2 separate regions of the Homo sapiens genome follow, and region 1 is linked to region 2. The links come from fine-mapping of genetic effects on plasma protein levels. A gene starts in region 2. The other region holds a variant in brackets. All regions are shown on one strand. Distances are from middle to middle.

Region 1 (5,538 bases), 43 kb before region 2:
TTTAGCCCTCCAAATGTAAATGAAGTGCCCTGGCTTGTTCTATATACCACAGTTTTGGAACTGGCCTCACAAGGTTTTCTCAGCAACTGCAGGGCTCTTGTGAGGTAAAAGTGGAAAGCTTTGAACTGGAAGCCATAGATATAATCTTCTCGAGATTGGCCAGCCATCTTCACAGCTTCACTGAACAGATGGTAAAAGGGAGTTTGCTCTTGAGCTTCGGAAATATATGCCATCAGGGCTATTCCATGGTTATCCTTAAAATTCATAGGGAGAAAGATTTGAGTCTTTCGGGCTGCCCATTTGGCTTTTGCATTTTCCCACACAGTATCTAATTGCTGGTGGCTTGCTTTTTCCTCCTTTAGCAGTTGGGGAACGTATTTAATTTCCATCCTGTCCGTACATTTCAGGTATTCATCATCAAATGCATTATCTGCCATGTCTAACACTTCAGCCTTCACCTTCAAAGGAAAAAGAAATTAATACTCTTGAAATAAGAAATTCAGTGAATATCATTTTCTCTCACATTATTACCCCCACCTTCTCATCCCTTGCCAAAATTCTCGCCTGACTTATAACCAATTTTGGGTAGGTTTTTATGCAGGAAGTATATTCCATTGCTATTGATAACTTTTCTCAGCTGTGCCATATTTGTGTGAAAGAGTAAATGTCAGTGGGTGAGAGGTATGGGTGAGATTGTGCCTGTAGCTCATTTATCTGGACATTATGGCACAGAGCAAAGAACAATGGATGTGAAGCTAAAGAAATGGGTGGCAGTCCTGGCTTTGAACATCTTAGCTAGATTTCTTCAACCCTTCAAGGCTGTTGGGAATTTGAAGTATCATATGCAAAATATTATTCATGATCTATAACACATAATGACAAACATTACCCTTTTCCTTTGGGGTTGCCCCCTCCCTTGTCCATATGGCCTGGGTAGAAATGATTTTGCACCTCCTGGATAAGCAGGTGATCTAAAGTCTAGCAATCAGAGCTCCCAGAGGAAAAAAATGGATCTTTCTTCCTCTAAAGCTGTAAGCTCTAAGGATAATATTGGCCTAGGGCTTCCAACAGTTATTCTTTAGTCCCATGGAGAATTCTGTCTTAAAATAAAGCAACAAATAAGGCTTGCTGAGCTGAGAGGTAGAGATGAGGACCCGAAAACATACTTTAGACGCTGGGCCTAACTGTACTCTTCACCAGTTGTAAGAATCAATAAATTCCCTGTTTGCTTCAGCTAGTTTGAACTGTATTTCAGTCACATACAACTGAAGAGGCATAATACCACATACAACTAAATTATACATATACATATGTTCACATAACATAAGAAGCAGGGTGGTGTAATGTAATTAACACCACTTTGAAGCCAGGCAGATCAGAGTTCAAATCCCATTTGTTACTAACTAGGTATGGGAAAGTTACTTGACATTTCTAATCCTCAAGTTTTCAATTTTAAAAAAAATTAGGATAAAAGGCCAGGTGCAGTGGCTCATGTCTGTAATCCCAGCACTCTGGGAGGCCGAGGCGGGCAGATCATGAGGTCAGGAGTTCAAGACCAGCCTGGCTAACATGATGAAACCCCATCTCTACTAAAAATACAAAAATTAGCTGAGCGTAGTGGCAGGCGCCTGTAATCCCAGCTACTTAGGAAGCTGAGGCAGGAGAATCGCTTGAAACCAGAAGGCGGAGGTTGCAGGGAGCGGAGACTGCACCACAGCACTCCAGCCTGGGCAAAAGAGCAAAACTCCATCTCAAAAAATAAAAAATAAATTAAAAAAGGAAGACAAAGTGGAGGAAATAGTATTTAACTGTGGGATGGCTGTGAGAATTAAATTATGTAATGAACATATGCAAAGCCCTCTGCCCCATGCCTGGCACATATCAAGTCTTTAACATGCCGTGGTTATTATTATTTTTTCATAAGGTCTTTCTCCAGTGTGATGTGGTTTTTTTGTATTATTTCATGCTAGGAATATATGTATTATACTGTTAGATCCTTAAGGGTACGGTCTGTATCGTTTTTATCTTTGAATCCTACACACCTAGCACAGAACCTGGCAAAATATTCAAGTGAACTACATTAGAACCCTGTACTCTGGCTTATGGATCAAAAAATAAGATGATCAAATCTCCCCAGGAATACCATTTATGAGTTTCTACAAATAAAAGGATAATGCCTCTTCCATTAGTCTATACTTGTATGGTGCATAGTTGCATAAGTCTGCTTAGGGACCTCAGTTGGAGACTTTATAGACATATTTAGCTAGAAGCTGTTAAAGTTACAGATTCAAAAAAAAAGTTACAGGTTCTATGTGAATGATACTTAAAAACTCTCTCTCTCTCTCTCTCTGTGTGTGTGTGTGAGAGAGAGAGAGAGAGTGAAAGAGAGAGAGACAGAGAGAGAGAGACAGAGATACTAACTTGTAAACGCAAAACAAAACTTGCTTCCATATCCTGCTCTAGGTATCTCCTTTCCCATCTCTCTTCTCTCCCTCACGAACAAACATCTTGAAAGAGATGTCTGTCCTTGCCATCTCCACTTCATTTCCCACGTATAGCTCAACCCTCCCCATTATGGCTTCCCACCCATTTCTCCACCCAAACAGCTCTCACTTAAGGGAGCATTTCTTCTTAGACTCTTTTGCAGACCCAACATATTCCAGTTAGCCATTAAATGTTGGAGTTCCTCAAGGCTACGTATTTTCTAACTCTCAACTCTACGCTCCCCAGGCAGTTATATACATGCTTACAGTTTCAATTATGATCTAAATATATCTGATCTATCCTGTAAGTGCCAGTCCTATATATCAAATTTATCTGCCTACTTAACACCTCCACTTGAATGTTCAAAGAACCTTCATACGTAACATGT[C/G]TAAGACGAAACTTACAATCGTACAGCCACAACGACCTGGTTCTTATTTAAAACCATTTTTCATTTGTGAACTTTTCCTACATATTTCCTTCTCAGACACACTGGGTGGACACTCTATCACTAAGTTTAACAAACATCTCCAGAGTTCTTTCTATATGCCAGGCACTAAGTGTTCGGCAACCTTGTGAGGTAGGTACTATTATTAGCCCCCCGCCTTTTTTTTTTTTTTTTTTAACAAAGATGAGGAAACTAAGAGATTGAGACTTACATGGAATTGGAATTTGATCTCAGGCAGTCTAATTCCAGAGTCTTGTCCTTTTTTTTTTTTTTAGACGGAGTCTCGCTCTGCCGCCCAGGCTGGAGTGCAGTGGCACTATTTCGGCTCACTGCAAGCTCCGCCTGCCGGGTTCACGCCATTCTCCCGCTTCAGCCTCCCCAGTAGCTGGGACTACAGACGCCCGCCACCACGCCCGGCTAATTTTTCTGTATTTTTAGTAGAGACGGGGTTTCACCATGTTAGCCAGGATGGTCTCGATCTCCCGACCTCGTGATCTGCCTTTCTCGGCCTCCCAAAGTGCTGGGATTACAGGCGTGAGCCACCGTGCCCGGCCGTCTTGTCCTCTTAACCAAACTGTTCTGTTGCCTCTAAAGAATCAGAATGTTTCCAATTATGAAGACCATGGACATTTATGTAGCACTTGAAAAAGAGTGTAATTCTGTCTTCATTACAACATTTATAAAAGGTTAACAAAAAATAGTTAACACCATTTTACAAACGAGGGAATTGTGCCAGCTTCAGAAACTATCTTGATTACTAGCCACAGAGAATTCTGCCATGGAAGTCATTAAGACCCCCGTAGTCCTGGGTTTGTAGGTCAGTTTCCTGACATGGGAATTTGAGCTTCAGGAGATCAAATCACTGCCATCTCATAGCCAAGAAATGCACTTTCCTCCACAGCACAGAATGTACCAGAGTGCAGCTTGGGTGCCAATGCCTGATTTATCTTCAAGACTTCAACACCGTATAAGACACCAGACCCTGAAAACACCTCCCACATTCCTTACATTATATCAGAGTTGATCTACTATGTTCCTGTCTTTTCCCTATGCCTCTAACCAGTCTCCAAATGTCTAATTTTAGACATCAAGTCTTTCTGGCCAGACACCATAGCTGATTGTGTATTTTGTATGGTGCGTGCCTTGAGCAGTGACAAAGTTCATAAATGCCACCACTATTCAGGGACAACTGAACAGATACTAAAAAACAGGTACAAAAGGCTAGGTGAACAAGCTGATTATATTTCTCTGATATAACCACCGAGAAAAAAAGCCCATACTAATGAAATTCAATTACCAAAAATTTCTTACAAAAATATGGAAATGACCTAAAGGTCAAGGAGAGAAACTGGCTAAGCAAATCATGAAACAATTACAGAACAAATACACTTAAATTATGTTGCAAGAGTATATTGAAAACCAAATCAAAACCACAATGAAATACCACTTCATATCCTCTACGATGGCTATAAATGATGAAAAACCAAGTAACATGTAACACAAGGATGCAGAGATATTAGAATCCTAATATACTGCTGGTGGGATTGTAATACCATGCAGCTAGTGTGAAAAAGTTTGGCAGTTCCTAAAAAAGTTAACATAAAATTACCGTACAACCCAGCAATTCCACTACTAGGTGTACACCCAAGAGAAGTGAAACATGTTCACAACAATAGGTAATTTTGCTATGAATCATAAATCATAACCCCCAAATTCATTCTTACATATATATTTCCTATATATAAGTAAACTTTACTCTGTAATGCTACCAAATAACCAAATAGTGTTTGTAGTATCTCAATATGTCAAGACTATATGATTAGAAAATTTTTTAAAAAGAAAAATAAAACACATGTTCACATAAAAACTTGTACATAAATGTTCACAACACCACTATTCGTAATAGCCATAAAGTGGAAACAGCCCAAATGTCCATCAGCTGATAAATGGATAAACAAGATGCGGTACGGCCATAAAATAGAATATTACTCGGCTATAAGAAAGAATGAAGTACTGATAGGACTCCTGAGAACATTATGCTAAGTGAAAGAAGCCAGACACAAAAGGTCACATATTGTATGATTCCATTTAGGCGAAATATCCAGAATAGGCAAAACCATAGACACAGAAAGTAGACAGTGGTTGCCAGGGAATGGGGGATGGAGAAAATTGGGGCTGACTGCTAATAAGTACAGGGTTTCTTTTTGGGTTGACGGAAATGTTTTGCAATCAGATAGTGGTGATGGTTGCAGAACATAATGAATATACTGAAACCACTGAAGTATACAGCTAAAAATGGTGAATTTTTATGGTATGTAAATTATATTTCAATAAAAAACATACTGCGACACAGGAAACAGGATACACAATGATTCTATAGAAAATGGATTAGAATATTAAATTCAAAAAAGGATAACAGTTTAAGAATTTAAGATATTTTTAAAAAGGCATCTAAAATGGTGCACAAATACCCACAAGTAATGTGGCAGCTAACAACGTGGGGAAAAAAAATCAAGTGAAATATTATATTTTACATAAAAATATGTTACAGGATGCTTAAAGAGTCAATTGCAAATAAAATCATAAAAGTTCTGCCAGAAAAAAAATGT
Region 2 (5,000 bases):
AGTCTATAGATGAGAAAATAGCCTCAAAAAGTTGAGGTAACTTGTTCATAAATAACTGAATGTGGGCTGGGCACAGTGGCTCACGCCTGTAATCCCAGCACTTTGGGAGGCCAAGGCGGCAGGATCACCTGAGGTTAGGAGTTCAAGACCAGCTTGGCCAACATGGCTAAACACCATCTCTACTAAAACTATAAAAATTAGCCAGGCATGGAGGCACGCACCTGTAATCCCAGCTACTTGGGAGGCTGAGGCAGGCGAATCACTTGAATCCAGGAGGCAGAGGCTGTGGTGAGTCGAGATCACACCACTGCACTCCAGCCTGGGCTACAGAGCAAGAATCCATCTCAAAGATAAATAAATAAATAAATAAATAAATAAATAAATAAATAATCAAGGGTGGATTTGAACACAGGCTGACTCTAGAGCCTTCCCTATTAACAACTATGCTCTACTGTGTTTCTAATGCTGAGAAAATGAAAAGCAACATTAAAAAATAATAACAGATAAGGATTTATGAGCTCCAAGAACACATTCCTTTTACTTTACCCATATTCCTGAGGGAAAATTAGTCTTTCTTTACATATGTTAAATGAATTAATGGAAAAGAAGGAAAGAATATTCCAGCTACTTGGAAATTAATTAAAATACAGTAGCCCCCTCACCTTATCCTTGGGGGATATGTTCCAAGACCCCCAATGAGTGCCTGAAACTGCAGATAGTACTGAGCCCTGTATATATTGTATTTTTTCCTGTACATATATACCTATAAAAAAGTTTGATTTATAAATTAGCCACAGTAAGAGCATCAACATTAATATATAGAATAATTACAACAATATTCTGTAATAAAAGTTAAGTGACTGTGTAGTCTCTCTCTCTTCAAATATCTTATTGTACTATACTCACTCTTCTAGTGATGCTGTGAAATGATAAAATGTCTATGTGATGGGATGAAGTGATGGAGCAAGATGATGTGAGATTTCATCATGCTACTCAGAAAAGTGCACAATTTAAAACTTATGAATTATTTCTAGAATTTCTCATTTAATGGGGGACTACTGTAAAGACTTTCAAAGGTTTTAAAGACTAGTCATGGTTGTTAAAGAATTTAAATGCAGGATTATATCTAAATAAATATATAATTTCAAGATAAAATGCAAATGATAATTCTCAAAAAAAGAAGTTGAATAAGATAAAATAATAATCTAAAAGTAATAAACTGGCTATAAATTCCCCGATTATACCAACTTTTATTGGTAAAACTAGGAAATAGGAGAAAATTCTTGAAAGAAAGTTACAGTGATTTTCTCATGTTACAAAGACAGGAGCTAAAAAAATATTATTGATGGTTGATGTAAATAATTAGAAAAATTCAGGTAAAAATCTTTTTAAAGAATTTTAAGAATTAATATCAAAATGTAAAACAATGTATTCCTTTCAAATTACTTAAGGAAGGCCAAGCACCGTGGCTCATCCCAGTAATCCTAGCACTTTGGGAGACCAAGGCAGGAGGATTGCTTGAGGCCTGGAGTTCATGGCTGCAGTGAGCTATGATTGTGCCACTCGACTCCAGAATGGTGACAGAGTGAGACCCATCTCATTAAAAAAAACAAAAATGGCTTCAAAAAGTTAAATAAAATATATTTAAAGTTAGAAAGAAATCAAAGAAAACATAAAGAATCAGCAAGGAAGCATTTTAAAAATTACAGATTACCAGTTATACAGTAAATATATTTTATTAAGCTTACCCATTAGAAAGCTCCTTTGATATGATTTTCTTAAACATCTACAAGTGACACACTTAAAACAAAGATTTAGGAAGCTTAAGAGGAAAAGATAAAGACAAAAAAATAGGAATTACATCAAAGTAGAATCTCAGAGGTAAAACTATCACATGAGCAAAGAGGATCACTTTTTTTTATGATCCCTAATACAACTCATACAACTTCATGTACTAAGTAACAGTGCTAAAATATATATAAAGTAGCTTTCCACCATGGCCACCATTGGAGGGCAGCAGCCATGACACTGCACTACCCTATAGCTGTGGGCCTCAACAAGGGCCACAAGGTGACCAAGAATGTGAGCAAGCCCAGGCACAGCCACTGTGGGCGCCTGACCAAACTCACTAAATTTGTGTGGGACATGATCCCAGAGGTGTGTGGCTTCACCCCTAACGAGTGGCGTGGCATGGAGTTACTGAAGGTCTCCAAGGTCAAACAGGCCCTCAAATTCATCAAGAAAAGGGTAGGGACAAACATCTGCACCAAGAGAAGGCAGGAGGAGCTGAGCAACGTCCTGGCTGCCATGAGGAAAGCAGCTGCCAAGAAGGACTGAGCCCCCTGCCATCTGCCTATAATGAAAGCTTTGCAGAATAAAATAAATATAAAATAAAGTAATAAAATTAAATTAAATTTAAAAATAAAATAAAGCAAAACAAAATAAAATATATAAAGTAAAAATTGTTGAAAATGCAAAACAATATGGACATAAATACAGAAACACAGGGAAACTTCTTTAGGCACTCATTTACAGGTAAAAATATGAAATTGAATAAAGGTCATCTGGTGTCAAATAATATAGGCCTTATCTATTATAAGAGTTTGGACTGAAAAGCAAAAGTGAGATAATAAAAAAAAGCTTTTCAGAATATTATTTTGTATAGATATGTGAAGGATGAAGGGTGGGTGAAAGGACCAAAAACAGAAACACAGTCTTCCTGAATGAATGACAATCAGAATTCCGCTGCCCAAAGTAGTCCGACAATTAAATGGATTTCTAGGAAAAGCTACCTTAAGAAGGCTGGTTACCATCTGGGTTTTCACAGTGCTTTCACATTCTTATCACTTTCAACACTACTGCAAATAGGAAGGGACAGTAACATTTAGAAGAGAACAAAACAGAAACTCTTGGAAGCAGGAAAGGTGCATGACTCAAAGAGGGAAATTCCTGTGCCATAAAAGGATTGCTGGTGTATAAAATGCTCTATATATGCCAATTATCAATTTCCTTTCATGTTCAGCATTTCTACTCCTTCCAAGAAGAGCAGCAAAGCTGAAGTAGCAGCAGCAGCACCAGCAGCAACAGCAAAAAACAAACATGAGTGTGAAGGGCATGGCTATAGCCTTGGCTGTGATATTGTGTGCTACAGTTGTTCAAGGTATGCAGTAATTTTTATTTCTCAACCTATAAGTTCCTTTTCTAATGTTTCAAATGTCTTTTCTTCCACTTTTATCCTAAAAGACATGATAAAGTTTTATTTAATCTCACAGATTAGAAGTTACTACAGCTTTAGCACAGAAATGGTGGACATGTTTAAGATACTAGAGATGATTATTGAAACTAGAAATTATGAACTTCATGGAATTTTTGATTTGGCTAGAATATCTGGCAAAAGCCTTTAGCAACAGTTTTAAATGTCTGTTAAGAAGATTTTATATAGCGATCATGTTAACAAGCTTCCTGGGAAAATATTTGAGGATAAAATCAAGGGGGCAAAACAAGCTTCACCTCCAATAAACTTCCTTCATGCTTCCCATTTGTTAGCGATTTGCTTACTAATTTAATGAGAAAATAATCAACATCTTACTTAACTTTTCCCAGTAACAGTTGTGTTAAGTGCTATTTGACAAATTACTATCTTTACCCTTAATGAAAATTCTGCTCACGTTCACCACCAGCTATAAACCACAGCCATCTGTTGCAATCAGATGCATTACTAACTAATGCTATGATCTATTCTAGGCTTCCCCATGTTCAAAAGAGGACGCTGTCTTTGCATAGGCCCTGGGGTAAAAGCAGTGAAAGTGGCAGATATTGAGAAAGCCTCCATAATGTACCCAAGTAACAACTGTGACAAAATAGAAGTGATGTAAGTAATGAACTTGCTGAAGATGACAATGGTGCAGGCTTTTTTGTTTATGTATTTGCATCTAAACTTTAAGACTCTTGTATGTTCTTTTAACAGTATTACCCTGAAAGAAAATAAAGGACAACGATGCCTAAATCCCAAATCGAAGCAAGCAAGGCTTATAATCAAAGTAAGTTACCAAATTACTCCCATGTTATAATCTGTTTTATCCAAGACAGATCTTTTGAAAAAGAAAATAATGTGGACAACTACAGAAAGATTCTGCTATGATCCTGTGTGAAATATTCTGTTAAGGGGTCCTTGGTTGTAACAGCTTCCCCTTCTTACTACATGTTTTTAGATGTCCTGGGGGAAACAAGAACAGCCCAAGTAAATAAAACTCTTGTTTTCTTATTCCAGAAAGTTGAAAGAAAGAATTTTTAAAAATATCAAAACATATGAAGTCCTGGAAAAGAGCATCTGAAAAACCTAGAACAAGTTTAACTGTGACTACTGAAATGACAAGAATTCTACAGTAGGAAACTGAGACTTTTCTATGGTTTTGTGACTTTCAACTTTTGTACAGTTATGTGAAGGATGAAAGGTGGGTGAAAGGACCAAAAACAGAAATACAGTCTTCCTGAATGAATGACAATCAGAATTCCACTGCCCAAAGGAGTCCAACAATTAAATGGATTTCTAGGAAAAGCTACCTTAAGAAAGGCTGGTTACCATCGGAGTTTACAAAGTGCTTTCACGTTCTTACTTGTTGCATTATACATTCATGCATTTCTAGGCTAGAGAACCTTCTAGATTTGATGCTTACAACTATTCTGTTGTGACTATGAGAACATTTCTGTCTCTAGAAGTCATCTGTCTGTATTGATCTTTATGCTATATTACTATCTGTGGTTACGGTGGAGACATTGACATTATTACTGGAGTCAAGCCCTTATAAGTCAAAAGCATCTATGTGTCGTAAAACATTCCTCAAACATTTTTTCATGCAAATACACACTTCTTTCCCCAAACATCATGTAGCACATCAATATGTAGGGAGACATTCTTATGCATCATTTGGTTTGTTTTATAACCAATTCATTAAATGTAATTCATAAAATGTACTATGAAAAAAATTATACGCTATGGG

Which allele goes with the higher level. Alleles are on the strand shown, and positions count from the first base shown. The strength of an association depends on the size of the effect and on how common the allele is.
For the plasma level of the protein whose gene starts at base 3,017 in region 2, allele C in region 1 goes with a lower level than allele G (weak association).

What was found. A credible set is the group of variants that fine-mapping cannot tell apart. PIP is the chance, under the fine-mapping model, that this variant and not a neighbour inherited with it causes the effect. The UK Biobank Pharma Proteomics Project read protein levels with antibody pairs (Olink). The fine-mapping took linkage between variants from a reference panel, not from the people measured, so its PIPs are less certain.
Region 1: its variant is the best candidate, but not a certain one, in a credible set for the plasma level of the CXCL11 protein (UK Biobank, PIP 0.86).

Annotation. Positions count from the first base shown.
Region 1 is chr4:76,076,744-76,082,281 of GRCh38, reverse strand. It overlaps ART3 (ADP-ribosyltransferase 3 (inactive)), which reads right to left. Exons shown (of 12, transcript NM_001130016.3): 3 at 1-458. Among named protein-coding and RNA genes, the nearest start is that of ART3, 4.8 kb to the right of the region's middle. The variant C/G (reference allele first, on the strand shown) is at 2,873.
Region 2 is chr4:76,034,087-76,039,086 of GRCh38, reverse strand. CXCL11 (C-X-C motif chemokine ligand 11) reads left to right here and starts at 3,017. Exons shown (of 4, transcript NM_005409.5): 1 at 3,017-3,160; 2 at 3,745-3,871; 3 at 3,968-4,040; 4 at 4,271-5,000. The coding sequence starts at 3,100. The coding sequence ends at 4,294. It also overlaps a transcript of ART3 not described here and the pseudogene RPL36P8.